3 linked regions of the Homo sapiens genome follow. The protein of the gene in region 2 binds, or shares a complex with, the protein of the main gene of each other region. Each region holds a gene or a part of one and is shown on either strand. Other genes may lie near its edges. The genes, in order: REV1, POLD3 and POLD2.

The links.
Region 1: the proteins of POLD3 (region 2) and REV1 are in contact, whole or in part, in an NMR structure (PDB 2N1G), measured with the Homo sapiens proteins. Residues at the interface, in NP_006582.1 of Homo sapiens: Gly232, Asn233, Met234, Met235, Ser236, Asn237, Phe238, Phe239, Gly240, Ala242, Ala243, Met244; in NP_057400.1 of Homo sapiens: Asn1158, Leu1159, Ala1160, Gly1161, Leu1171, Leu1172, Glu1174, Trp1175, Ile1179, Met1183, Glu1184, Glu1185, Asp1186, Gln1189, Val1190.
Region 3: POLD3 (region 2) and POLD2 share a complex: the UniProt entries of both Homo sapiens proteins name them as parts of the both the DNA polymerase delta and DNA polymerase zeta complex.

What each region holds. Positions count from the first base shown.
Region 1 is NC_000002.12:99,485,351-99,496,105, forward strand, and holds the start of REV1 (DNA repair protein REV1), read right to left. Parts: upstream 4,668-10,755; 5' UTR 4,467-4,667; intron 4,062-4,466; exon of another isoform or gene 1-4,061. UniProt on the Homo sapiens protein: Deoxycytidyl transferase involved in DNA repair. Transfers a dCMP residue from dCTP to the 3'-end of a DNA primer in a template-dependent reaction.
Region 2 is NC_000011.10:74,635,449-74,644,605, forward strand, and holds the end of POLD3 (DNA polymerase delta subunit 3), read left to right. Parts: intron 1-748; coding exon 749-827; intron 828-5,115; coding exon 5,116-5,318; 3' UTR 5,319-7,628; downstream 7,629-9,157. UniProt on the Homo sapiens protein: Accessory component of both the DNA polymerase delta complex and the DNA polymerase zeta complex.
Region 3 is NC_000007.14:44,119,227-44,129,292, forward strand, and holds the start of POLD2 (DNA polymerase delta subunit 2), read right to left. Parts: upstream 4,323-10,066; 5' UTR 4,285-4,322; exon of another isoform or gene 3,954-4,284; coding exon of another isoform or gene 3,953-3,953; exon of another isoform or gene 3,661-3,952; intron 3,234-3,660; exon of another isoform or gene 2,884-3,233; coding exon of another isoform or gene 2,828-2,883; coding exon 2,608-2,827; intron 1-2,607. UniProt on the Homo sapiens protein: Accessory component of both the DNA polymerase delta complex and the DNA polymerase zeta complex.

The sequences.
Region 1 (10,755 bases), on a different chromosome or scaffold from region 2:
AAAGATACAGAGCACAGCTGGGTTACTTTAAGTTCCAATTAATAACCAAATATAATCTGAGGGGAAAAACCCAGTGAAAGAAGGGAGAAACTGAACACAACTAAAGATGATAAAAATTTCCTTCCCAAATACTACAAGACTCATATTTCAACTGGATCTTCAAGGACTTTCCTGTCTGAAGACACGAAGCCTCCAGCAAGTCCTTTCATCACCACAATCAGATCTCCAGCTGAACTTCAAAGGGAACTCTATAAAAGCCACTCTGGTGGGCGGTTGTTGAGATAATCACTCTTAGCATCTTCTACAGATTGAAAAATAAAAAACCTGACTTACACATTAAGACCAAACACCAGTCACCATTCTCAACAGTTTATTTTTTAATTTGCTCTAGACATCCACAAAATGTATTTTTTAAAGGCGTTCCATAAATACAATTTTGGTGGCTAACAAAAATTCAGCACCAAAGTAATAAATATAAAATTTAGCCAGACACAGTGGCTCACACTTGTAATCCCACCATTTTGGGAGGATGAGGCAGGAGGATGAGGCAGGAGACTGTAGCCCAAGAGTTTGAGACCAGCCTGGGCAAAACAGTAGGACCCCATCTTTACAAAACATTAAAAGACTAGCCAGGCATGGTGGCACATGCCTGTAGTGCAGGCTACTCGAGCGCCTGAGGCGGGAGGCTGGCTTGAGCCCAGGAGGTTGAGGCTGCAGTGAGCCGTGATCACACCACTGCATTCCAGCTTGGGCAACAGAGCAAGACCCTGTCTCAAAAAATGTTAAAAAAGAAAAAAATTCAATTAACCCACCTTTATCTCATGCCAAAATACAAAATCCTAAGTGAACAAGCTAATTTCAAATAGTTCCTAGAAGGTTTAAAATTTCCCTGTTCTGGGCTGGGACCAGTGGCTCACGCCTGTAATCCCAGCACTTTGGGAGGCTGAGGCGGGCGGATCACGAGGTCAGGAGACCGACACCATCCTGGATAACACGGTGAAACCCCGTCTCTACTAAAAATACAAAAAATTAGCCGGGCGTGGTGGCAGGTGCCTGCAGTCCCAGCTACTCGGGAGGCTGAGGCAGGAGAATGGCGTGAACCCAGGAGGTGGAGCTTGCAGTGAGCCAAGATGGTGCCACTGCACTCCAGTGTGGGCGACAGAGCGAGACTCCATCTCAAAAAAAAAAAAAATTACCCTGTTCTAAGCACTTTACATACATTAACTCAATTATTACTCACCATAATCCTGTGAGGTAGGTATTATTACAGTCATCCTACAGATGAGCAGAACTGAGGCACCACCAAGTTATTAACTTGCCCACAGTCTCAATCAGTAAATGGTGGGAGCCAGAGAATTCTGACCCTAGCTGTCTGATTCCAGAGCCAATATTTAAATCAACTATACTATTCATTTACTCAACAAGTTTTACTGACAGCCTACTATGTACCAGGCACAGTTCTAAGCACTGGGGATAAAGCTGTGTACAAGTCAGACAAGACCTCTGCTCGCTTGTTGAGAACAGGGCTGGCAGCAAACAAGTCTAAGGGGGGAAATAAATAAGTGGGAAAAAAAAAACAGTGTATCTTCACCTAGTAATAAATGCTATGGAGAAAAAGAGAATAAAGAATAAAAGATTATAAAGGAAGGGGCTGGTTCCTATTTTAGAATTAGAAAAGGCCTGAGGCGATGACATTTGAGCAGAAACACAAGACAAGACATGAAGAGCCTTGACCACTTAGAGGAAGGGGTGGTCCAGCTAAAAGAATAGTAAGTATAACATCCTAAGGAAGAAACACTTTGTTCAAGAACCGGCAAAATGACTATGGGACTGGGGTAGGTTGCTGAAAGTCAGTCACCTAGTAAGAGGTAACGTTAGAAGCTGGCAGCTGCCAAATCATGCTATGCCCTGATGGCGACTAAGATTCAAATGTAAGTGGTTCACAGGATGCTTTTAGAGGACACTAAGCAAGAAAGTGACAATCTGATTTACATTTTTAAAAAGATCCCTCTGGTTGTCAAGGTGAATCCCTAGGGAACAGTCAGGGAGCAAGAGAAATAAACCAGTAAAGGCACTATGGAAACACTCCAACCAAGAGATAATGGAACTTAGACTAGGATTCATGTACTGTTTATAAGTAGATGCTAACAGAAGAGCCTGCAACCTAATTGCCTCTAAAGAGCCTTTTTAATATCCCTTTTCCCGTCTCGTCTCCTGACTTGCCTTTGGAAAAAAATAAGATTATTTTTTAATGTCCATGTTAACGCTTCAGTTGGTGCTATTATAGTAAAAAAAAACTTTTCATTTTTAAATGTTCTGTTTAATATACTCTATGATTAGTAATACGCCACATATACACACCCATACATTCTTGAAAAGCAGAAAGACCCACAATGCTCTTTAGTGTAGGACTTGTTCATTTATTTGGAGACGAGAGGTACCTGTCACCTCTTCTGATTACCTTTCCTCTCACGCTTTGTCTCTAGCACATCCTGGCTCATTCTAGATTGTGAACTGCAATAAACAGGTATACCAAAGGGAATATGTATTTACTGAGCACCTCCTGAGTACCATGGTGTCACTAGATGTCTCACGTTTAAGAACTGATTTAATCCTCAGCTACCCAAGGTGGGAAATGGTATCTTCATTCTACAAACGAGAAAAAATCAGAGATACTAGTAACTTAACTTGTCCAGTCACCAGCTAACAATTTGTAGGGCCAGAAATCTAACCTCCATGTAACTGTGAACTTCCTGTCTTTCCACTACAGCAGCTATCAAAGAAAGTGCTTTCAAATATATATTATATGTAGTCACTGCAACTTCTTATGAATAATGACCAGTTTGTTGCTGGTGAGGACAACGTTTCCTTAATGCTCTTATGTAGAATCAGAGTTTTGAAGTTGCGAGTGGGAAGTTGGAAATGTAGTGATCTTATATATTCAAGCACATTATTTTTTAAAAATTATGTTCTACTTGAGACCTCATAGAAATTAATTTTAAAAGAGCAATTCCCATCTTTACAAAAAAAATTAAATATGTACGGTTTACCGTAAAATAGCGGTTAAGGTTCTACAACAAAAGATAGGAGTTTGGTACAGACTCTACCCTCAAAAGGTCCTACACAGTAAGAGAAGACAGGGCTAAAAAGATAAACGCAACACAGGAAAAGGCGCAAATAGCCTAAGAATTGAATGGAAGAGAGCCTTGTATACTGGAGAATGATTCCTGGAAGAGGAACTTTAGGTGAGCTCTTAAGTGTCCAGTACAGGAAGGCAGGGAACAATACGCAGCACTGGTCCCTGCACGGGCAAACCCAAGAATATGTGTGAAAGGTTGGTGGACAGATAGATGGTTCCCACAGGCTGATTTGCTACATACAGAACTCCATAGAAAGAACCAAGGTTATGGTTGGTCCTACCCTACCTAAACAGGAAATGGCTTATTCTCGGAGACTAAAGTGCCAAGTCCGGAAAGACCAGACAGATACACAGAATTACAGACTGTTACATAAAGTCCTTAATAGTTACAAGCCCTTGTTGTGCTATGTGCTAGTCTGCATTATTTTCACCTAAATGAAACCATTTCTACTTAGTACATGGCGTGAGAAGACGTGGAGATAAAGAGAATTAGCAGACGTATATTATCTGCAATTTATCTTACGGAGGAGTACATTAAGGAGTGTTATGTGAGATTATTTCTTTACAAACTGAGAATAGGTAGGAAGAGCAGCGAAACACAGCGCGGCTCGGTGCGCCCAGAGCGGCGTCACTGTAACAGTACAGAAGTGGGCAAGGGGCTCTCGGAAGGACAGTTGGGGAACGGCGCCCAGCGTATTTAGCGAACGGACAAGCAGCAAGGAAAAACAAGGGAGCAACAACCGCCTTCGGACATTCCGACCGGTTCTGGGATGCACCGGGGACGTCGAAGGCGGGGTGCGGAAAAACGCTGTGGCTGGAGTGCGGGTGGGAGCGGCGGCTCGACCGGGTCGACATTCTACAAACGCTTGTGGAACGAACGCCCGAACGCGCGCGTGAATGAATGGCGCGGAACTGAATGGCCGGCCGAGGCGCCGGCGCAGGAGGAAGGAGTTTGCGGCGCGGTCTGACCGGGCCGGCGGGATGCGGCCGGGCGCGGAGGGAAGGGCCGCTGCGCCAGGGGTCGGCGCGGGGCGGCCCATGGGGCTGGCGGCGGCGCGGGGCCGGCCGCGCCATGACGGAAGGGAAGGGGAGGGGAGGTCACACATTACATAACCCGGCGGCTGCGAGCGTCAGGGGAAGGCGCCGTGGACAGCCCAGGCCGCGACAGGACGGCCGCGGGCCGGGGCCGGGGCGACGCACCCCTCCCCCGCGCCACCTCAGGCCGACCGCGCTCTGGCCGCTGCCGGGCGGGTCTGCGGCGCCTCCGGGCGACGCGTGTCCGATCCCGCCCCTCCCCCACCCCGCCGCCGGCCCGGGGGTCGCTCACCTTCCGCGTTGCCCCAGACCACCATGCCCGGGCCCGGCGGCCTTCTCCGGCCTTGCGGACCCCGGCCCCGCCGCCGCCAGTGCCCTCGCCAGGGACCAGGGAGGAGGGCCGGGGGAAGGCAGCCCCACCGCTGAGCAGCGCCGCGGTCCACGCTCCCCCACGCTCGCGGCAACCAACCCCGCGCGCGCTCCGCGGTGGCTCTCCGCCCCTCCCCCTCCGGTTAGCGCGCGCGCCGCAGCCACGCCCCCTAGCGTTCCGCGCGCGCTCCCCGGCCCCGCTCGCGCTCACAGCCGCGCGGCGCACGCGCTCTGCTCCCCCCGGCCCGGGGCGACCCCAGCCTCGGGCGTAGCACCGCGGCGCCCGGCGTCGGCCTCCGTGTTCCTCCCCTCCCCGGCCCCGCCCTGTTGTTCTGCAGCCGCCCGCAAGGGGCAGCGCCTGGGCGGCACGTGACCGTCTCGCTAGCTGGGCGGAGGGGAGCGCAGCGCGGGCCCGCCCACGCACTGCGCCGCCTGCCCGCCCGTCCTGCTCCGGTCACCCCCGCGCTTCGTTGACCGGGTCGCGGCTCTTCGGTTGCCATTCGGACAGCGCGCCGCTCCGTGCACAGCGAGTCCCCGCGCCTGCCCCGCCTTGGGGCTCCCCAGTGGGGAAGGACACAAGTGCAGACACTGACCGGGCTTCAAACCCCGGTACTGTGTGAAGATGCGCCAGACGCCCGGGTTCCCTCCTTAAGCAATTGATTTACAGTGACATCTAGTGGAGAAAGGGACACACATGAACTGACATTTTCCTATGTCCAGAGCAACCGAGAACCACGGCCCACTCAGGTTCGCGGGAAGGAGCACTGCGCCACGGCGTTTTCGGGATTCGTGGCCTGCTCCCGCAGGGCACAGACACTATCTTCTGTCCTTTGAGTGCCCGGGCAGCATTGCGCCTGAGTATTTGTAAACGGAGGGCCGGTATCCCATCCCATGTACAGCGCTGGAGTTACCCGAGAAAGCAGTTTTCTATGAATATAAAAATAATATCCTATATTATGTATGCGTAAGTACAATTCTAATTGAGGGCCTTCTAGCAGAAAACAATCCGTCCATAAGGACCACTTTCTCCCTCTTGGCAGGGTCGCTTTGAAGACTCCACATTGTTACATAATAGTCTTTATTGTTGTAATGCACAAACATGAAGATACTTTTTTCCCACTCATTCCCTTGCCTAAAATGCTTCAGAGTTTGCAGGTACTTAGGAAACAATCAGTATTCTTTTGAAAACTGATTTGCAGAGTTGGAACTTGTTTACTAGCAACACAGAGAATACTCAAATAGCTCATTTCTTTCCCTTTCAGTTTTTTGCCATTTTATAGACTTCTATAAATGCACTTCAACTTCAGTATTCTCGTCGCTAATCCAACGAATTTAGATTGCATACTTTTCAAAGACGTCATAATTTAAAACAAATTGCGTAATTGCTTTCTTTTCTTTTCTTTTCTTTTGAGACGAAGTTTTGCTCTTTTGCCCAGGCTGGAGTGCAATGGCGCGATCTCGGCTCACTGCAACCTCCGCCTCCCAGGTTCAAGTGATTCTCCCACCTCAGCCTCCCGAGTAGCTGGGATTACAGGCATGCGCCACCATGCCCGGCTAATTTTTGTATTTTTAGTAGAGAGGGGGTTTCACCATGTTGGCCAGGCTGGTCTGGAAGTCCTGACCTCAGGTAATCCACCAGCCTTGGCATCCTAAAGTGCTAGGATTATAGGCGTGAGCCACCGTGCCTGCCCATAATTTTAACAGACTCACGACCAGTTGCCGACTGCAACACCAGGAGGTCATCTGCTGAGATGCTACAGAAAAACAGTGGTAACCCCTTGTTATGGGTGAGTTTTGTTTTGGTTGTTGTTCTTTTGCTTGTTTTAAATGTCTAAATGGCAGCATTCCTGCACGATTGTATTTCAATTTTCTTTTCCACTCTCGTATTCAAACCGAAGATCTTTTTTTTTCTTCTTTTTGTATTTTTCTCAAGGAAGAAACACAAACCTTGAGCCAACTGACCTTGGCAATACCTTTATAGAATACAGTAAAATGGTATTAACTGCAAACTAGTAGGCAGCCTCTGTAAAGGACGAAAAAAAATCACGTTGCTGTCTACATAAAATAGGATAAAAAGAGAGATGGGGAATACATAAATAAAAATGTATTTATGGACAAATTCTAGCATCCTTGTGACAGGGTCTTGCTCTGTTGTCCAGGCTGGAGTGCAGTGGCAAGATCATAGCTCAGTGTAACCTCAAACTCCTGGTCCCAAGCGAACCTCCCACCTAGGTGTTCCAAAGCACTAAGATTACAGGCATGAGCCACCTCACCCAGTCCAAAGTTTTATTTTTGTCCATTCCAGAATATTATGTTTTATGCCATCACATAATGAAGTCCTCTTGTTTCAATTTCATGCACCTACATTTATTCACCCACTTATCTATTTATATTTATTCTCATAGGATTATCTTTCTCATGTAAGGGGAGTCAGGCTGACCTTTGGGCCACTCTGGGGGTCTAGAGATGGCCGCGCTGGACCCCTACACTTGGGGGAGTGCTTTGGGGCACTGTACCTTATTTCCGTTTTCTGAACCTCATTAAAATTCATTTCATTACTGCTATCTCAAAAGGCCTATGAAAGTGCCAACCACTGACCTTTGGAGGGACAGCCATGGATAAGGACATGACTTCTGTCCTTTCACCTCTGTATCTGGCAGTAAACTTTCCTTGGAAACATTTACATCTAGTCTCTCAAATACCAAAAACAAACAGCATGAAACTACTAAAAACAGAGGTTTGTACTCAAGTCCCTTGGCTGATGTAGACACAATAACATGTGATTTACTCCATAGGAAAGAGTGTGCTGATTGTAATAAGGATTCAGTGCATTATGCTGAAAGATGAAATAATAAGGCAGAATGATCTCACACCCACAGAAACTTAGGAAATTGGCAGTGGAATTGGTTCACCAAGACTGAACTCTTTCAAACATACCATCATGTTTGACAATATGACTGAACTCTTTCAAACATACATGGACAGGTGTATATATCTGTATTTAAGCAACACTGTTCACAGATTTTAGGATGATGCAACAATCAGTTATCATGTACATTCTATATGCCTGTCCCTGTGCCAGACCCTGTAGGGTCAACAGTGGACAAAATACATTGCCTGCCCCCAAAAAGCTCCCAGTGTAGTGAAGGAGGCAAACAAACAGGTACCTGCAGTACAGGCTCAGGGCTGTTACTTGAGGGCAATCTATGAAGCACACAGGACAGGTGTCAGGGAGGCTTCCTAAAAATGTGACATCTCAGTAAGTTCTGAGAGACTAGTCCAGTTGGTTAGGAAATGCCATTTCCAGAGGGAGCGAGATGTGCAAAGGCAGAGAAAGGAGAGAGAACAGGGAACATTTTAGAAACTGCAGAGTGCAAAGTGCAGAGTGGTGTGGGCTGTGGGGAAGGGTCCATGTTGAAAAGGGAGGTTGGGGAGGCAAGTAGGGTCCAGCGCATGAAGGGCCTGGTGTTAGTCTGTTCTCACGCTGCTGTAAAGAACTTCCCTGAGTCTCAGTAATTTATAAAGGACTGAGGTTTAATTGACTCACAGTTCCACATAGCTGGGGGGGGCCTCAAGATACTTACAATCATGGCAGAAGGGGAAGCAGGCACCTTCTTCACAAGGTGGTGGGAGAGAGAAGAGAAAGCAAAGGAGGAAGACCCCCTTATAAAACCATCAGATCTAGTGAGAACTCACTCATTATCACAAGAACAGCATGGGGGAAACCGCCTCCATGTTCCAATCACCTCCGTCCTTTGACATGGTGGCGAGGGGATTACAGGTCCCTCCCTCGACATGAGGATTAAAATTTGAGATGAGATTTGGGTGGGGACACAGAGTCAAACCATATCAGGCCCCATAAAGTATCTTACTGCATTTTGACTGTATTCTGAGGGTGCAATGAACCCTTGAAAGGTTTTAGGCAATAAAGTGAGTTTTGAAAGTCTCTCTGGCTGATGCATGGAGAATGGGTTTGAGAGGTGGTCACGGGGTCTTGCAATAGTCCATGTGTACAGGTGCAGCCTAGAGAAATTAGGGGGCTAGATTTCACCAGGGTAGGGGGTCTGTAAAGCAATATAATGAAACAAGAAGAAGGCAAGGAAGTTGAGGGTGTAGGCAAGTGGGAAATCATAATGATTGATTGTGGAACTTAAGCTGAAGGGGAGAGAGCACATGCCAAGGGTAGGTGGAGGTTGCTGAAAGATGATATCAATGGGCGGGGGCTGAAGGGCAGGCATGGAGGTTGTTTGAAAGGCTCTTTGGAGTCAGGTATTAACATTACATTACATGTGGCAATGACAAGATTGCAGAGGGAGTTAGTGGCTGAGATACAAGGGAGGACAAAGTCATGGAAGAGAGAAGTTCAAGGATATGAGGGGCCAGAGTGAGAGAAAGATCATCTCTGTGTATATCGAAATCATCAAGAATAAAGACTGGAGTCGTGTTGGAGCAAGGGGCAGTGAGCCAGAATACGATCTTGATGGCTCCAGGTCAGAAGGATGAACATCATTCAGTATATTCCATTCTAATATAGTAGTGGTCTTAGGACAGAGGTTCCCAAACATTCTCTGTTCATGGCATCCTTAGTACCTCAGTAATTTTTTCCCAGCATCCCTAAGAGTTTTGCCAAAAGCTATATCTAACAGTTTTGCTTATTAAATAGGTAGGGCCAGGCCAGGTGCGGTGGCTCTAGAGTGGTAATTTTTTTTACCAAGTGGATATCCTCTTCAGCAATCTTTCACCATATGGTTTCAGCATCTATTAATGATTCTGGCCTGAATAAACCATTTTATTGATGTCTCAGTCTATTTTGATTGCTGTAAAGGAATACCTGAGTCTGGTTAATTTATAAAGAAAAGAGGAAGGCTGGGCACGGTGGCTCACGCCTGTAATCCCAGCATTTTGGGAGGCCGAGGCGTGTGGATCACTTGGGGTCAGGAGTTTGAGACCAGCCTGGCCAATATGGTGAAACCCCATCTCTACTATAAATACAAAAATTAGCTGGGCATGGTGGCAGGCGCCTGTAATCCCAGCTACTAGGGAGGCTGAGGCAGGAGAATCGCTTGAATCTGGGAGGCGGAGGTTGTAGTGAGCCAAGATCCTGCCATTGCACTCCAGCCTGGGCAATAAAAGCGAAACTCTGTCTCAAAAAGAAAAGAAAAGAAGTTTATTTGGCTTACAGGTCTGCAGGCTGTACAAGAAGCATGGCTCTGGTATCTGCTTTTGGTGAGAACCTCACTCAGGCTGCTTCCAGTCATGGCAGAAGGCAAAGGGGAACCAGCATGTCATTCCAAGAGAGGAAGCAAGGGAGAGCGAAGTCCCAGGCTCTTTTCAAAAATCAGCTCTCTCAAAAACTAATAGAGCAAGAACTCATTCATCACTTTCAGGATGGCACTAAGCCACCAAACTGTTCTTAAGGATCTGCCTGCATGACCCAAACACTTCCCACTAGGCCCCATCTCCAGCATTAGGGATCAAATTTCAACATGAGTTTTGGAGGGGACATACATCCAAACTATATCTAGTGGGTTGCAAAGGATGTTTTCCTAATTCCATAATTCCTTCTGCATTTATTAGTTGGCATTCTTCAAAGAACCTCCCATACTAACTGGGATAAACTATAATTTCTTCTTAAAAAGCAGCCAAGCAGAGTCTCAGCCTCCTGGATATCAGCTATTGTTCCTAGATGTGACTCTGATGGGCCACTTTCCTACCTCTTGCTGACTCTTAAATTGGACAACTTCCGCCTCTGACTCAGCATTTGAAATTAATTTCCCATGTGGGAATTTGCAAATAATCCTTACTAACAATTGATGTGTGCAGGACGGCCCAGCCACTGGCTTTCCCTGATAATCACAGCGATGACCCCAAGAAGTGCCCAAAGTTTGGTTATGTGTGACTAGTTTGTGTCTAAAAATGAGACCAAATGGTGCTTCTAAAAAATTCCAGTGACTTTCCCAAAGCTTTTTTGCTGGTCGTTTTCACACAATAGGTGTTTCATTTCTAAATTGTTGTATACTCTGATTTGGTCTTTCTGTGTTGCTTTGTTTATCATTTATTTTTCCCTTCAAGGTAAACGTGCTTCTTCCTATTTTGAAATCTTTCAAGTTTCACCTATATCTCTGTTTATTTGCTGAATACTCCTGAGACAATAATATCTGGGCTTGGCGCTCTGCTTGGCTGAAATGCATTCTGCCTGTTAATCATTTCTA
Region 2 (9,157 bases):
GAAGGCTGAGGTGGGCAGAATGCCTGAGTCCAGGAGTTTGAGACCTGGGCAACACAGGGAGACTTTGTCTCTACTTTAAAAATATCTGGGCATGGTGGCACATGCCTTTTAGTTTCAGCTACTTGGGAGGCTGAGGTAGGATGATCATTTGAGCCCAGGAGTTGGACTGTTGCAGTGAGTTATGATTGCACTTCTGCATTCCAGCCTGGGCAACAGAGCCAGAACTTGTCTCTAAAAAACAAACAAACAAAAAAAGAAGACAAGAAATGTGAAGGCTGACATAGCAAGTATCTACAGCAAGGGCATATGCCACAGAAATCCCTGGTGTGGTTTAGGGGCCATCCCTGTGTACTCCCATAATATCTGTCTCAGCCCTCACTACACTGTATTGCAGTGGTCTGCTTTCCTTCTCTCTCTCCTCCACTAAGGTCCTTATCCTATATGTCTTTTTAACCATGCTGCCTGCACTACCCAACAATAGTTTATTGACTGAATGAACAGAACACAGTTCTTTCTTCAGCATGCTACTTTCCTTCTTATGAACAATGAAGTATCAAGCCTGTGTATATAGTGGGCGTAACTTGTCTGTGTGATGGGGTTGGTTCTCTAAAACTAATGTAGAGTTTCTCTTTCAACTTTTTATCATAATGGAGTATTGGAGAGTGATTAGTATAGATTTAAAAGCTTTTGTTATTTTTCTGTATAACATAATTGATCCAGCTTAACATTGTATCCTCTGACCTTTTAGAGCTCAAGTGGAGAAAACAAAAGAAAACGAAAACGCGTACTAAAATCTAAAACTTACCTGGATGGGGAAGGCTGCATAGGTAAGACAAATATTTGGCTCCAAATCCAGAGATAGAATCTCTTATTACCACAGAGGCACCATAATCCCTTTTAGAACAGGTACATCTCAAACTTTAATTTACATGTGAATCATGCCCAAGTGGTACTGATGCTGTTTGTCTATGGCATACACTTTGTGTAGCAGAGTGTAAGTCAGAACACCTAGGTTCTTGTTTAGGTCATAGACTATAAAAATAAGCACTGAGATCTTGGCTAAAAGTTATGTCGTCCCTGGTGAAGAGTTTCTTATCTATGGAATATCTATTTTGCCTAAATGTGCAGTTATGAAGATTCAGGTGGCATAAATATATCCAAAAACAAGATGGAAACCACAGTATGGGCTTAAGATGTTATCATAGACATTGAGAAGCTTTTTTTTTTCTAGAATATTTGTTTTTATAAATTTGAACAGTGGAAAAGAAGCTACAGATGATTAGACTGTAATCAAGAGTCATCTTTGGTATTTGGTTCCATTTGTTCTTCAGAAGGGTATGACTCATCGAGATTGCTTCCTTTATGTTTCCTATTTGTAAGCCATGTTAGGTAAAAGCATGTGCTTGTTATGAAGGCCTAGGGAGGAATTAGAGTTCAGGCTTTGAGTCATTGGCTAGTTCTTCAGCCATGTTTTAGCTTCTTCTACCCTTTCCATAATCACACTAGACTTCTGTGGAGCTTTTAAGATTTAGCACTTGAGGTTTGATGGGATGCTCAGATCCTGGTACTGTATTTTTGTGTTTGAAAAGAGTTGTGGGTTTAGGCTCTTACCTTTGTTAGTTGGATAGCCCATGGTTGTCATTTTGCCTTTTGTGGCACCTGCTACAGCTTGGATCTTCAGAGAAGATTATTTTCCCTGTTACTGATTTTTTTTTTTCCTAGTTCAGACTTGTTTTGAAAAGATTGGCTCTGAAGAATCAACCTTTCCAGGTTCTTAAAACTAGTGAAGACATTTTGTCATCTGTGCTCCCTGTCCCACTATTCCCCACCTCCCAGTCCTCTGAAAAGGCCTCTGCCATTTTAATTGTAACATGTGATTGGGGAGTAAAATTCTTTACGTGTGGAAATTCTGTCTTTTCAGTGCCAAATTTCTTGTGAACCTGTGAATTCTGGACTTTGAATGGGTTTTTTTTTTTCTTTTTCTTCCTTTTTTTTTTTTTTTTGGCTTTCAGTCTTTTAATAGTTGCCATTTTCAAGCCTCTTGGTTTGGCCATGGGTGATAATATATGTGTTTACTGTTGAATTTCTTAATTCAACAGTGCATTTTTTAAATTTAAGAGGACAAAAACATTGGTGCCAGTTTTTTCCTCCTCTTTCTGCCCCAAAAGAAAAAAGTCAAACGTCTTTGTGAGAGTGAGAGTTCATTGGGAATTTGTGGGTAATTATTTATTGCTTTGTTTAAAATATAGTACTCGAGTTTTGGCCAGGTGTGTGATGTGGACTTTTTTGCACTCCTGTCTCCAGACAGGACTGTTAAGAGCCTTGGATGCAGCAGTGAAAACTGTGCTCACATTGCACTTTTTTTTTTTTTTTTAAAGGTTTTTGGTCCAAGCTCAACCTAATGAATCTTGGCTTTGGTTACCAACAAAGGAGTTCTGCTTTCCTCTCTCTGCTCAGACTGTTCCAAATGTACCAGCATAGGGGGCTTGCCCTGTCCTGTGCTGGATCAGATTTGTTCTATGGGTTTAGAAAGCTCATCTTTCTCTCTTTGTGACTTTGCAGCAGAAATTGGGTAGTTGGGCCCCTGAGATAAGTTTGGAGTAGACTTCTGGACAAGGGAATGGGTTTCTAAGAGCAAAGCAGTTAAGTGGAAAAGAAATCTGATGTTACCCACGAAAACCAGGTTTGTTTGCCTTTTTTTAATGGCAACCCAGAAAAGTGGCATGTTGTTCAGCTAAAATAAAGGCCCTATATTTTTAATGGAGACCTCCTTTTTTCTGGGGTTTGCGGTAGCTACAGCTTTGAATATAGAAATATTCCTTTTAGTTCTTACAGTATACTGAATATGCTGCTAAAGAAATTTTGTTGGTGCTGCCCTGACTGTTTTTTAACTCCCCTGAGCAATGTCTCACACAAAATTGGCAATGAGACAGCCATTGATTTCATTAATAAGTAATGAAATAATGAGCTAATTGATGCTGAAGTATAATGTAGACATGCTGCCATTTGAGTACAGAATATAGCTTATGAAGGAGCAAAGTCTTATACCACCAACTAGTAGAAAGTAATTTCCTTTCTGTATCTGTAGATGGCTCTTCAGACTTTTCTAATTTAAGATATTGAATAAATAACAGCTCGTAATTTTGTCCCATTAATTCAGTTACATAATGCTTTTGAAGATGCATGTGAGATGGAGGTGGTGTTCTGGGGTCTAATTGCTGAACGAATAGGTATGCCATGGGAATTCTCTAATTATCTTAGAGCAACATTTCTCAAACTTTGCCGGCTATGTGCATTACTTGAAGATCTTGCTAAAATTGAAATTCTGCATCAGTAGGCCAGGAGTGGGAACTGAGAGTGCATTCCTAATAAGCTCATGGGAGATTCTGTTGCCTCTGGTGTGCGGAGCACAATTTGAGTAGTAAGGCCTTTCAGAATACTTAATATATATCTAAAATTTATCAGTATTTTTTAGCCTCTAAGTGAACATCAAAGTGAATTCTGGGCTCTTACAAAATTAAAGACAAACTCTGGGAACTCTCTGGGAAGGGATTGTTGATTATGCAGCCTTAATGGGATTAGCTGGATAAGAGGGACGGAATGCTCCAGTGGCAATTGCACTTCAACATTTAAAACAGGGAAGGAGAGAACATTAATTCCCAGAGTGTGGTCCCCAGACCAGCAGCATCAGCATTATCTGGGAGCATGTTAGAGAAGCAAATTCTCAGGTCCCACCCCAGATCTGCTGAGTCTGAAACTTGAGAAACAGAATCTGGCAATCTATGTTTTAACAAGCCCTCCAGGTGGTTCTGATGCACAGTAAAGTTTGAGATGATATCTTAAGTAGCAGAGTAGGTATTGGGACACACATACATTTGATTCCAAAGCTTATGCCTCTAGAACAATTTGATATATTTTATTAGAAAGAATTATCAATAAAAGCTCAAGACTGTCATTGTTCTTTAATGGAAAAAAAAACCTTTTACTTTAATCATTTGAGCATTTATTATGCATATTAGGTTACGCTTTTCAGCTAAGAACAAGCTCTTTTCCTTCAATGTTTCTCTATCGCTTGCTGCAACCAGGAAGGCTGAGAAAGAATTTAGATAGCATTGGTTATACAGCTGCCACAGCTCTCTAAAATTACAGAAAGGTGGCATGCTGTTTCTTGTGGTTGGTATATGTGTTGCAGTAGTGTAGATCCTCCTCGGTTATGTGACGTCATGGCTGGAAGCCACTATCTGTGCCTGTGTCCTTTGGGGCTTGCTCATAATGACTGCTTACTGTTACAGTTCTTTTCCAAGTTTCCCTTGGGAAGGGTTCAGTGAGTTTTAATAGCAGGGGAAAAGCAATTTATGCCTTCGGCTGATAGGGAGTAAGAAAACTGGTAACTTTGTTTCTCAATTTATCACTGTCATTCCTTTAACACGTGTGTCATCCGATAGCATTTGCTTGAGATAGTTAACCTTCATGATACAGACTACTACTAAATTTTGGGTTAATTTGCAGCCATTAAGAACTAAGAACCGAACAGTTGAGTAACTAATCTTCAATTCTCTGTACCTAGGATGTGCAGAGAGTGGGTGGCATCAGGTTAGAGCTAGACAGGAGGGTCCATGGTGACCTTGGTTAAACAGAATGGAGGCAGGCAAATAGGCCAGCAGTTTAAGACCAGTAACGGGAATAGGCAGGCATTGTAGGTCAGAGAGGTGATACTTAAGAAGCCAGTCAAAGCATGGAGTTAGAAGTAAGTGTTTAAGATATAGACAATTCGGATATAGAGTTCAGGAAGTTAGCCAGCATAGGCCAGGACCCAAATAAAGGATTTAGGCAATTCACTGATAAAGGGCCATTTAAAGGCATGGGATATAGCTGTGAGGGAGAAAAGTGAACGTTAATTCTAAGCATCAAATAGAGACTGTGTGAGCTCAGGATCCCACATAGTTCCTACCTTAGGCTAGATCTGATCTCCCAGTGGGAGAAAGATTGAGTCCTAAGTAAGCATATTTGCCTTGATCAGAGTCTGAAATGATTGGGGTTAGCAAGACATCCCATTTTCTTCATAGAGTAAATGATTCAGCCCACCCATGTTCCATTTTTTTCTCATCCTACCAGTGACTGAAAAAGTCTACGAGAGTGAATCCTGCACAGATAGTGAAGAGGAGCTTAACATGAAGACATCCTCAGTACACAGACCCCCTGCCATGACTGTGAAAAAAGAACCCAGAGAGGAACGAAAGGGCCCCAAGAAAGGGACTGCTGCTCTGGGCAAAGCCAACAGACAGGTGTCCATTACTGGCTTCTTCCAGAGGAAATAAACTGCCATCTCTGGTAGATCAGAGACTTGGAGTGGTCAAGGGAGAAGACCAAGAAATGTACTCCTCACTTACTATGTAAGTTCATCTAGATCTCCACCTCACCTGTATCAAAAGACTGTTCTTTCATCCTGTGAGGTTTATACTATTTCTGGTTTTTAACCAAAAGGAAATCATCTGGAAGCAGGAGGCAAAAAGCTGTTACCTTCTAATGACATTTAAAAAGCACAGTCTTTGACCTGTCCAGGAGAAGGATTTACTCCAAAATTATACTGGAACAGTTTTCAGAATTCTCACTGAAGCCATTTAGTGGCTAACCCACTGTGCTCCACTCACCCTATGCCCTGGTCCGCATATGGCACAGGAATTATTCCTTCTTGTTCCTCTGTATTCTAAGAATTCATGTGGGTGTTTCTTATCCTTACATTCTGCTGGATACGTTTACCCCTCTTGTCTTCCTGCAGTACCACACTTCTGTCCCCTAACCTCCTGAGGCTGTTCTCTGTAAGTCTTTTAAGTTTTGGTTGGACTAAAGGCTGAAGTGAAAATCTCCCTGTAATCCTCTTCCTCCATTATGCAGTACACGGACACCTGGCTACAGACCAGGACGTGGCTTGTGTTCTGTTCCTTTCACAAAAGCTCTCTGGGACCTTCACTTGCAATTAGTGGTTAGGGAAAAGCCTCAGGCAGAACACAAATAGAAATTTAATGATGTGTTCAACTCCACCAGAAATTACCTCGAGTCAGCATTGACGATATTGGAGGAGCTGCCGTGCTGCTGATACGGGGTGTGCTTTATGCTGCTCTTTGCGGTTTGTTGATCCCCTCCTCCCCCACTCTCAATACCTAGAGAGTGAAACCCGTACAATGAGATAAAGACTAAAAAGAGAAATCCCTTCCTATATACAGTGTGCTACATTTACAAAAAATTTCTCCTTAAGAAAACAGAATATTCAAAAACAGCACTTTTCCAGGAAGTTAGTGAGGAAGATAAGGCACACATTTATTTATAAATGGATGTTGCTCCTTTGTATTTTTAGCTTCCCTATTTGCTTAAAAGTACAGGCTCCCTAAGAGAGGATGGAGAGGGAGAGACTGAATTGTTAGTAGGTCTAAACATCAAAGAAAACATTTTTATTAGTTACTTATGGAAAATCATCTATTACAATGATAACCTTCAAGTGACTTCCATTATGGCTGGACAGGCGGTGAGCTCAGTGGATTGCAGTGGTGTGCTGGTGATTTTGCACAGTGAGCTCTGCGGAAGGGGTCAGGCTCAACTGCTGATGTGTCTCACACGTAGCAGACAAGGGGTGTCTGACTGGCTTCTTTTGCCTCAAGATGGTGTATGTCGTAAGTGATGCAATCAGCTGTCTGCTTTTTAAGGTTGGGATTGTGCTGACTTTGGGATTAACATGAGCTTCTTTAGCAACCAAGCATGAACTTGATTAAGACCAGAAGTTTGGGAGATGAGTCCTGGCATTATGTCTAGGACTAAAGCAGTGGCTTTGTATAGCAAGCTGAGTAAAGGTTGACATATTCCAAAACCCTTCTTTTTAAAAGGAAAAAGGATGGAGAGAAGGATGGAAAGCCTGGACTTAAACCTTTAGAAAAAACTTCTGGAGAGAAATCCCTTTTAAACAGTTACTTTTGTCATTGCCTCTGGTCATTTGTCTAAATAGGAATGGAAAATTAAAAGAAAAGCAACAATCCAATCTTTTTTCTAAAAATTATGCTGGGGTCTCGACTAAAACTGAATTTGAATTGGAAAATTCTGGTGTTGGTTGGAGTTCCATCTTGCAAGGGATAATACAAATCCTATGATCTCTATGCCCAATATGCTGCCTCAACTCTGAGCTGTCTGCAAGGCTTAGTAAGTATTGAGTGGTGTTTTTTTTTTCTTTTTATACAATACCATGTTAACCACATGAGTTAAATAAATTTGAGAAGTTGTTTTAAAACAGTGCTTCAAACTGAGTATCTGATGAGTCTCTTATTTGATGGATGGTAACAGTGTTGCAATTATTTAAGCTCTGAATGGGAAGAAGGCTGGTTTTCAGTTGATATTGTTAAAACTGCATACCCACAGTCTGAGATGAACAAGTTATTTGCTGCCTTCATCGTTTTTTTCAGCACTGGGGAAATGTTAGTTTCAGCCAACCTCATTTTTTAGTTCATCTAGAAGAAAATCTAGCACATTGTATTAGTTTGGCTTCATCACTTGCTAGCTGTATGACTGTGGGCAAGTTTCACAGCCTCAAGTTCTTTATCAAAATAAAACTAAAATGAGTTACCAAGGGTGTCAAGACTAAAGTCAAGTGTATGTAGCATGAATTCGGTCCATGTTGGCGGTCACATACGCGCTCTACAAAATGGTGGCTTTCTTTCTGATGTCATAAGTGATGTAATCAGCTAGCAGCTTCCTGAAATGTTATCAGTTATACGACCCAGGTGGTATATTCTTCAGTCATTCTGGCTGTACATGTAGTAAAAAGGGGAAGATAGTTGTCCTATTTCATGAAAGGTTTAAAGAGAGTAGATATTTTCCTACTGAAGGAATTATAGATGCCTATATTTACTGTTCATTTATTGTGTATCTACTATGTGTCAAGCCCATGACCTGGGGACTAGAGGATATAATAGAAACCATAGAATTTGGCACTTGATCCTCACAATTTAGTGGAAGGGAAAGCCAGTAAAATGAAATGACAGTGCCATATGTGAGTGCAATGTACAGGGTCCTCCAAGAGTTCCCAGGAGGATGGGTATCAAGGCAGTCTTCCTGGAGCAAGCAGTTCTTTGAATGATGAGCAGGATTTCACCCAGCAAAGAGGAATGGAAATGACTTTCCAGGCAGAGGAGCATGGCTTTTGGGAGAGGTGGGCTGTAGAACTTGAGAATAGGGAGGAAAATGTATTCAGAAATGAAGTTGGGGCCTTGCTAAGCAGTTTGGATTTGATTTGTAGATAATGGGAGCCAACTGAAGAAATTTAAGAAGAGTAACAGAAGTTGGTTCTCAGTTAAGAGTGACAGCCAGTATTTACTTTGATTTTGTATCCATGATAGTATTTCTACCCTTGCATATGCACATTGTATCTTAAAATTCTAGCGGGATTAAAGAAAACCATCTTGGTTAAAACAAGGCCGCTTAATTCTGGCAGTCAGCATAGACAATTGCAGTGTTTCCCTTGTCTTCCCCCGTCAACATAGATTTCTGTAGCAGAATCAATTTTTTAAAGTGATTTCAAAAGCTGGTATTTCTTCTTTGACACTCTCAGTGATGAGCCTCCACTCACCTCCCTGGAAAAAACTGGGAATTCAGGGGCAGAGGGGGCTGGTAAACGAGTGAAACAGTTCTCTATTCCTTTTCTATCTTTGTTTCTTTAAGAAGACATTAGTTATTATACAGGAGAGGGCTGAAGAGAAGGGCCATATAAGGAAACTAAATAGTTTCTCCAGGACATGAGTAGAATGAGTGCCTAATAATGTATTTGCCAGAAACGTACTCTGTGTCAAGACTCGTTTTGGTAAACTTGTCTCCTTTCATTGGTTCCAGGATCTCAGTATGCTGTAATGCAGCTTTTACCACCATGAAACATTTTGGGGCTGCCTCGTTTTGTTGTGAGAAGGCAGTATTGCTTTCTGAGTTATTGCCCTGGCAGCTCTGTAAATTAGCCCATGCTGTCACCATGCCCTCTCTGAAGGGCACATTGTACCCAAATGACTGCATTTAGGATTGACTCTTACCACTCCCTGCTGCATGACACTTTTCTCCACTTGTATCTGTGTCCAGTTTTTTGTGTTCTTAGGTGCGGACCACCCACAGATTACCACCCAGGCTC
Region 3 (10,066 bases), on a different chromosome or scaffold from region 2:
TATGGAGAATCAGTGAGGGCAGGAGGGAGGAATACAGGTGCCCACACAGCACAGATCCAGGCCTGGAGAAAACACCAAGGAGGTGACAGGACAACGCGGATGCCAGACCAGCCCCTTAGCCTAGCTGACTCCAGCACAGCCTGAGCCCCTGCTGCCTGGGAAGAACCAGGAATATTCCTCAAATCTACGCCCTAGGGAGCAGACAGAGGCGAGCAACTCAAAACAAGACAAGAAGGATGCCAGCAGCAGACAGAAATGCAACAGACTCCACATCCTCACGTATCCCACTCTTACTCTCCCCCAGGTGGCCTAAGCACTGTACATGTAACTCAGCCAACGCTGAAAATGTGCCAGGAGTAGATATTATCACCCAACTGATGCACAGAGAGGTTAAGCAATGTGTCCAAGGGCACACAACTGGGATCCAAGTGTATGCCCCTGAGCACTGGGCAGAATGACATCCCTGTAACCGATAGTAGGACATGCTTCCACCCAGGCAATGTGCTGGCACCAAGATCAAAACTGGACATAAAAGCCAACACTTGCCCCCACTCAGCCCACTGGGTCTAGGCAGGAGAACGACAACAGGCCATAGACAAGTAACTCGCCACAGTGACAAGTGCTGTGAACAAATGGTGAGCTGAGGTAGAAAACGGAGGCCCTCATTGCAAGGTGGCTTCAGGTGGCCCCTCAAAGAATATAACACTTCAGCTGACAGTGGGGCTTAGATGGGGCCATGGGAAGACAAGGGAAAGAGTGTGCCAAGTGAAGGGAAAAGCCTACAGCAGGAAGGTCTGGGCAGGTTTGGGGAACAGGTGAGTGGAAAGACCAATTTGGAGAGACAGGCTGAGCTTCAGTGAGGATGCACAGGCCACATGGAGAAGCCACATGTAGGTATTCAGGGTGGGGGCCAGCACCAACCACCAGGCCTGTGAGCGAGTGCTACTGCTGCCCCGCTGCTATCAACACATTCACTGTGGCAGCTGTTTGGTTTCCTGACCAGTCTGTGAGCACAGTGAAATCGCTATCGTCCATCACTGGGGAGCTTTTTTGACAGCTCCAATAACTGGAAGAGAAATGTGCGACCAGAGGAGGTGCTGCCGGAAAGAATCTAGAAGGTGGCATTGACATTGGGCCCAAGTAGTAACTGAGCTCTGAAAGGAGCCAAGGAAGGTGTCCCGAGGGCTGAAAGGAAAGTGAGGAAAAGCTACCGGAGCCGCAGGAGGGAGCCCCTGATTATGTGGGAGAGGAGAGGTGAACAGCACTTTGTCTCAGGTAAACAAAACAGAAAACATCCTGATATGATTTGGCTCTGTGTCCCCACCCACATCTCATCTGGAATTATAATCCACACGGTGTTGACGGAGGGACCTGGTGGGAGGTGACTGGATTGTGGGGGTGGATTTCCCCCATGCTGTTCTTGTGATGGTGAGTGAGATCAAGCCATCATGCGATCTGATGGTTTAAAAATGGTTGGCAGTTCCCCTTGCTCTCTCTCTCCTGCTATCATGTAAAAGAGCCTTGCTTTCCCTTCACCTTCTGCCATGATTGTTAAGTTTCCTGAGGCCTCCCCAGCCATGAGGAACTGTGAGTCAATTAAACCTCTTTTCTTTATAAATTACCCTATCTCAGGTAGTTTTTTATAGCAATGTGAAAATGGACTAATACATATCCCTAATGAATTTGAGGTTCTAGCTAGATTTCTAGGCCCAGGGTTCTCCTGCCTGCCTATAACGAGAATTGATCTTGGCTTGGCATGGGATGAGATGGGCTTCTCAAAGCTCCCCAGGGGATTCCAATGTGCAACTAGGGCTGAGATCCATTTTGCCTGGTGCCAAGGACAGTAAAAATGAGTAAGACCTGGTCTCACCTACTAAATCCTCAGTTTAAAAATATAATAGGAGATGGATTTGAAAATTACCTGGAAAGCCACTCTTATGTAAGTGGTAGGAATGGGGGAATGCAGCAGCACCTAAAACTCAAATAAACTCAAAGGGGGAGATGGGGGTCCCTGCTTCACCACCAAGAGTAATCCAACTGCAGGAGAGATCACCAGGGAAGAAATGGGGGCAAAGAACAAGGGTTGTGTTGGGCAGGCCACTTTATTAGGAAAGACAGAGGGCCCAAGGGACAGGAAAATTCATGGCCAGCAAATATGGGGGCCAGGAGGAGAGGCAAACAGACATGAGTGAACAGAGGGGGTCCCCTCGAGACCAGAGAGTGCATCCTCACCAGTCTTGGCTCCTGGTGCCTGGCGCCAGGCTTGCCACACTGAGGGGCTCTCTGGCTACAGCACAGGCAAATACCTGAATAATCTGCACTGAAGATAGGAAAACCATTTTCCTCTGCCAGTGAAGTAATCGCCATCACCGCCAGAACTAAGTCCTCATCTCCAACCAGCCTCTGAACTAAAACTAACTCCAAACCCACAAATTACTTAATTTAATCCTTGTTACTATCTTAAGAAGAAACTGAGGGAAAAAGAGGTTAATTTTCCCAAGGTAACAGGAAGTGGGATCAATTAGATAAACTGTTCCCATTCTCTTGCAGAACACTTCTAAGTTCAGGGATGCTGTGGGGGAAGCACCTTCCCAAACTCTCACTTACCCCAGTGCTGCTGGGCCCGGTTCTCCAGGAAGGGTCTCATTTGGATGAGGCGGGTGGCATAAATGTGGGCATACTGCCGGCTAAAGCTGCGCTCTCCTAGCCGGAAGGGTTGTGAGGAGTTGGTGTAGGTTGCCACTGGCACCCGGGCAAAGGTGGCATTGTTGGCTGATGGTGGGGACAGTAGAGTGTGGGCCCTCTGGGCAGCCTGCTCAGAAAACATGGCCACACTCCTGACTTGCTTGGTCCACACAGCTTCGCCCAGGCCAAGGAGGTTCACTGCGAAAACACAAAGGCATTCCTGCTGCCCCTGTCCATCCCCCAAAGCAGCAGCTCTCCTGGTGTCTCACTGCACCCAAAGGATACTGGGAAAAGAAGGAGAACAGCTGTAGTTGACACCAGACATTGTGTCCACTTGGAAATTTATCGTGCCTGGATACCGATGTCTCACCCTGTAGCGGTCATCCAAAAAGAGAAAAGGAAAGCTAGGAGTGTTTGTCCCATCTGGAGTTCTTCCCGAACCCTAGACTCAGGTGTCCTGTTCCATCTGGACAACTACCAGGGTCTCAATCAAGTTCAGTTTGCCCCAAATGGAATTCCCGATCTGCCTCCATCCAGCTCTCCGGCACCTGTCTCATTTCCAGACAAGAGGTCTGCCTTATTAAATAAAACTTCTGTGAAATAATAAGCCTATTATTAAATAATAATAGAACTAAACCAAAACCAAAACATAAATCAGTCACTGCTCTGTTCAAAACTCTCCAAAGTGTCCTCATTTCATTGAATAAGGCCCCAAGTCCTTACAACTGCCTATGAGATCTGCTCCACTGGTCCTCTCCCCTCCTGGTTCCCACTCCTCCACCTTGGATCCCTCCCCACAGCAAGGGGCCTCTGAACTCTTGCTTGCCCCTCTCCCGTATACTTATAGAGCTCACTTGCCCATCTCCTTCAAGTTCTTACATCTTTACTCAAATGTTACCTTGTGCCCTGCCCATCTGATTTACAACTGCAACTCTCCCCAGTACTTCAACTGTTATTGTTGTTTACAACATTTACCTTCTAACAAACTGTATATTTTAAATGTATTGTCTGCCTGCTCCAACTAGACCATAAGCTCCAGGAGAGCTGAGATTTTTGTGTCTTATGCCACTAGCCACCTAGGGCTACGAAGTACAGGAGATGTGGTGAGTCCAACTGTGATGTTTGGGTTGGACACACAATGGATTTCTAAGAATAGTACAAAGAATATCCCAATAATTTTTTCACATACAATTGAAATAATAGTTTGAATATATTTATGGATTTACTCCAATTGATTTGTTTCGTTTTACTTTTTTCGTACACCTACTAGAAAGTTAAAAAATTCCCTAGCGGCTTGCAATCTATCTCCACGGGACAGCACTGGCCTGGGACACAGGCTCCGCACACGTGTCTAACGAGTGACTCGTTAGGAGCTTTTGGCTCGAACGTGCTTGATGGCGGCAGCAGCCAGGCCGCGCTACTCGGGATGGGGCCGAGAGCGCCCTGGGGGCTGTCCCAGTCACGGCGGGTGCCCCGGCTCGGATCCACGCGGCAGCTGCGGGACGTCCGCCAAGACACCAGCCCACCGACCCAGGAGCCCGGCCTCGCGGCCTGGAACTGCCACCCCCAGCTGACCCCGTTTCCCTGGACCCCACTCACCGCGCGGCGCGCCGCATCCCGCCAATCCCCGCGCGCCTGCCCCGCCCATCGCCGCAACTCGCTAATCCCCGCGCGGCTTCCCCGCCCATCGCCTAATCTCACCAATCGCTGCCCTCCTCGCCCCGTCCGTCACCAGGCGCCTCATCCCGCCGACCACTGTGCGCCCAGTCCCTGGGACGCCCAGAGAACGCGGAGCCACACCCTCGGTTTCCTGGGCAACGCGGGGCGGGGGCTCGCAGGCCGGCGCCGCGGGTCTTTGGTTGGCGGCCGCGCGTGCAGGGGTTGGGCTGACGGGGGGTGTCGGCCTCCAGTGGGCTGACCGCGTCACCCCGTCAGGCCCTGCCCAAACCTCCCAGTGGTCGTCACCCCGCCAGACCTCCCAGTGGTCGGCCGCCAGCCTCCTTGGTGAAGCCCCCAGCGTCCCAGCTTTCCCCGCAGAGCTGCCCACTTGTAGCGATGGCGACACGCGAGGAGGATCCCAACAGAAAGAAGGCCCAAGGCCCACTAACTTGGCCGGGGAGAAGTAACTCTTCCTGAAGGGATGGCGCGGGGTCTCGGGGTTCCTCCCGTCCTGCCAGCGTCTGCGTCCGGGAAACGCATTGGCGGTTTCGGGGTCCTCCCTAGCTTGCCCACAGCTGCACACCAGCTTCCAGCCCAACACTCCCCAATCTCCAGTGTCCTCGTTGTCCCCGTTACTCATACTCGTTCTTACCACCACGTCTTTCTGAGTGCTGTCTCCCACTTTGGGAATACTTTTTTTTTTTTTTTTCCATCTCCACTAATTTATAGAATTCCTCACCCCATCAAGAGACGCTTCCCCACTAAGCTTCCCGGGCTCTTCCCGCCGCGCGCTGATTCTCCCAGGCGTCCTCTAGCGCTACTGTTCTGCTACTTCCCTGGGCCTGTTTCCTAAGTCCAGGTCTTGTCTCCACAACGAGTGGATATTAACACTCGTTAATTATTACTTAATATTTTAATTTTTGTTTTTGTTTGTTTGTTTGAGGCAGCGTCTTGCTCTGTGGCCCAGGCTGGAGTGCAGTGGTGCGATCTCGGCTCACTGCAGCCTCGAACTCCCAGGCTCCAGTGATTCTCCCGCCTCAGCCTCCCGAGTAGCTGGGACAACAGGCGCGCAGCACCACGCCTGGCTACTTTAAGTTTGTGTGTGTGTGTGTGTGTGTGCGTGTGTGTGTAGAGACAGGGTCTCCCAATGGTGCCCAGGCTAGTGTGGAACTCCTGGGCTCAAGTGATCCTCCCACCTCAGCCTCCCAAAGTGCTGGGATTACAGGCATGAGCCACCACGCCCAGCCTTATATTTTAATTTAAAATGTGATATTTTAATTATTAAACGCCTTTGCAACTGCTTTGAGGTTATGACACATTAATTCATCTGCTCCTCAAATAATCCTTTGGGTCAGACACAGTGGTTCACGCCTGTATCCCAACACTTTGGGAGGCCGAGGTGGGAGGATCGCTTAAGCCCAGGAGGCTGAGGTTGCAGTGACCTAAGATTGCACCACTGCACTTCAGCCTGAGCGACAGAGCCAGACGCTGTCTCAAAGCAAGCAAACAAACAAAAAACCTTTGAAGCATGAACTATTATTTTTCTCCCACTTTACACATGAGGAAATTGAGGCAGGGAGGGCAAGAGAGATCATGTAGCTAGTGAGTAATAGCTGGGATTCACACAGAGACAGCAGGACTCTTGCTGGTAAGGTTGTACTGTTCTGAGCCTTCACCTGAAACATTGTACATGTATTGGGCAAACAAATAATTTTACTTTTTCCTTTCCAATTCAGATGCTTTTTATTTCTTTTTTCTTACCTGATTACTCTGGCTAGAACTTCCCATACTATGTTGAGTAGAAGTGGTGAAAGTGGGCATCTTTGTCTTATTCCGGATCTTAAAGGGGAAGCTTTCAGTCTTTAGCATTAAATATGTTGCTAGCTGTGAGTTTGGGGATTTGGCCTATGGATTTTATTATTTGAGGTAGTTTCCTCCTATTCTTAGTTTGTTGAGCTTTTTCTTCTTTCAAAAGAGTGTTGAATTTTGTCAAATACTTTTTTGACATCAATTGAGATGACCGTGTGGGTTTTTTTTCTGTTAATGTGGTCTATTACATTTATTGATTTTTATGTTGAACCATTCTAGCATTTCAGGAACAAATTCCACTTGGTGGAATTACAAACCAAAGTTACAATAATACTAGCTTTTAATGTATTCTCTTTTATATAATTAATTTTACTTTAATTGCACCTGAATTTTCCTTTAGCATAGACCGTTATTTCTCCCCTCCAAGTACTAACCAGGCCCAACTCTGCTTAGCTTCTGAGATTGGACACATTCAGGGTGGTACGGCCATAGATGAGATCTTTATTCGTTTATTCGGCTTTTTTTTTTGAGACAGGGTATCACTCTGTCACCCAGGCTGGAGTGCGGTGGCACAATCTCGGCTCACTGCAACCTCCGCCTCCTGGGTTCAGGTGATTCTCTTGCCTCAGCCTCCCAAGTAGCTGGGATTACAGGCATGTGCCACCACACCTGGCTAATTTTTGTATTTTTCGTAGAGATGGGGTTCCACCATATTAGCCAGGCTGGTCTCCAACTCCTCAGGTGATCCGCCCATCTCAGCCTCCCAAAGTGCTGAGATTACAGGTGTGAGCCACTATGCCTGGCCTCTTTATTCAGCTTTGAGTCACTGTCTAGTATCCTTTCATTTCATCCTGAAAGGCTTTCTTTGGCTTTCTTTGCAGGGCAGATCTAGTGATAATGAACTCCCTCAGCTTGTGTTTATCTGGGAATGTCTTCATTTTCCCTTATTTTAAAATAATGGTTAAGTGAGATACAGATACAGGATTCTCAGCTGACAGATTTATTTTTTTCTTTTAGCACTTTGAATATATCAATCTACTGCCTTTTGGCCTCTGAGGTTTCTGATGAGATAGCTGATGATCTTTTTTTTCTTTTTCTTTTTCTTTTTTTTTTGAAACAAGGTCACACTCTGTCACCCAGGCTGGAGTGCAGTGGTGGCACGATCTTGGCTTGGTGCACCCTCCGCCTCCCAGGTTCAAGTGATTCTCCTGCTTCAGCCTCCCGAGTAGCTGGGATTACAGGCATGCACCACCATGCCTCACCAATCTTTGTATTTTTAATGGAGATGGGTTTTTGCCATGTTGGCCAGGCTGGTCTCAAACTCCTGACCTCAAGTGATCCACCTGCCTCGGCCTCCCAAAGTGCTAAGATTACAGGTGTGAGCCACCGTGCCCAGCCAAGATATCTGATAATCTTTTTGAAGATCCCTTGTATGTGATGAGTCACTTCTCTCTTGCAGCTTTTGATATTGTCTCCTTGTCTTTGGCTTTCAGCAGTTTGATTATGATGAATCTCAGTATGAGTATCTTTGAGTTTTTCCTACTTGGAGTTTGTCGAGATTTTTGAATGTTCATATTCATGTCATTCATCAAATTTGAGACATTTTCAGCCATTATTTCTCCTAATAATCTCTCTGGTCCTTCACTCTCTTTTCTTTCTGGAATTTCCACAATGGGTATTAGTCTGCTTGATGGTGTCCCGCAGGTCTCTTAGGCTCTGTTTATTTTTCTTCCATCTTTTTCCTTTCTGTTCCTCAAATTTGATAATTTCCCTGTCCAGTCTTCAAATTGCTGATTTTTTAAATAAATTTTATAATTTTTAAATTTTATATAAGTTTTTTTAAAGATAGGGTTTTTCTATGTTGCCCAGGCTGGTTTCAAACTCCTGGGCTCAAGCAATCCTCCTGCCTCAGCCTTCCAAAGTGCTGGATTATGAGCATGAGCCACTGCACCTGGCCAAGTTTGCTTACATCTGCCTTTGAAGCCCTCTAGGGAATTTATTGTATTCTTCAGCTTCATAATTTTTTGCTACCAAGAAAAAAAACTCCAAAAAGTTTTCTATCACTTTATTGGAATTTCCATTTGTTCCATCACTTTCTTGACTTTGTTCACATTTTCCTTTAGCTCTTCAAGCATCTTTAAGACAGTTGTTTTAAAGTATTTGTCTAGTAAGTCAGCCATCTGGTTTTCCTCTGGTATGGCTTCTGCTTATTTATTCTTTTCCTTTGAGTGGGTCTTAGTCTCCTATTTCTTTGTATGCCTTGTGATTTTTTTTTTGTTGTTGTTGTTGTTGTTGAAAACTGGACATTTGCATCTCATGATGTGGAAACTCTGGAAATCAGGTGCTTCCTCTTTCCCCAAGTTTGCTGGGTTTTTCATTTGTTTGTTTTTATTTTTTATTTTTAGAGCTAGTGTCTTGCTCTGTTGCTCAGGCTGGAGTGATGTGTTGAGTTTATTTTTGATTATGAGAAATGTAGCTCAGGACACCCGTGGGTATAAGACCAAGGTGGTGGCCATCCTCACATTGCAGGAAGGTGTACATTATTCAAGACAGGCTTGAAATGACACGTGGGCCCTGAATTTGGACTAACCCAGCTGCAGTTCAGTAGTGGGTGAAGGGCAGGTGTATCATTTGGTTGTGACAAATGTAAATGAAAGGCAGTTGATCTATTAGATATTGGGGATGCACAGAAATGGTGGGAGTTTGGAGGATCAGGTTTTGGGGCAGATGGGAAGTATGGTTGCTCTGGAGGGCCAAGAAACTGGAAGAACAGCAATCACCTTCTATCTGGGATTCTCTGATCTGCATACCAGTCCTAGGCTGGACCGTCCCCAGTGTTCCCACTGCTCTTGGATGATGCTCTCATGAAACAGAATCTGGGAGAGGTGGCCCAGCTGGCCAGACTTAGCTTGGGAGCCTGCTGCCTGTTATGTTGCTGAGAGTCTAGGTTCCTACACCCTGTAGGGTTGGTTACAGGAACTACCCTCCCACCAAACCCATACATAGTCCAAGAAAAGCAGTTCCCCATAGGAATCAGTGCTATTGAGAAGGGGACAGATACTGGGCTGGTAACTGATCCCTATTCACTTTCAGGCACCATCCACATAGGATGGAAGCAGACAGCTGCAGTTCCCAGAGGCCAGGCCAGGGCAGAAGCCAGAGTCTATGTACAGCCGCCTGGAGGTGGCACCGATGAGGGCAAGGTGGGCTGACTCAGAGGCTGGGACCCTGGCAGGTGCCAGGTCGACCCAAGCCAGGCAAAAACAAGGGTCTACTCTCTAGAGCCTGGGTTGAGGTGGGTGTGGGTCTTGATTGCAAGCCACAGAAACTAACTGGATACAACTCAAGCATAAAGTAGGTTTCATTACAAGGATACATCTCTGTGGGACCCAAGGACAGGAAGGTGGCCCCTTTCCTGTCTTTCCTTTGGCCTCAGGGAGGAAGCAGAGAGTTCAAGGGGGGTCCTGGGAGAAGCATGGTGGAGGTGTTGCTGACAGCAAAGGGAGCAGTGGGTTAGATAATATTCTATTTTGGAGCTGTGTGGCTCTTTGTGTCAGTGGCACATCCTAGGGGACATTCCACAGCTGGGAGGGGTGGGGCTGAAGTACCTTGGCAGATGGAAGGTTAGAGGCTGCTCCAGACACCTGGGATGGTAGAGACAGATCAACGAGTCCCAAGGAAAAAGACAGTGAAGGGTTGACAGTGTGTTGGCAGCAGGAGGGAGGGGGGCAGCTAGGAGAGGGGCCAGAAAGAGGAGGTCTTCTCTCTCCATGCACACACATGCATATGCACACACGTGCATATGCACACACACACATGCATGCACACACACCCCCACATGCACATACACACACAGACACCTGCTACATACACACCCCCAACCTCTCACCTGCCACACCACCTTCTATGCCAC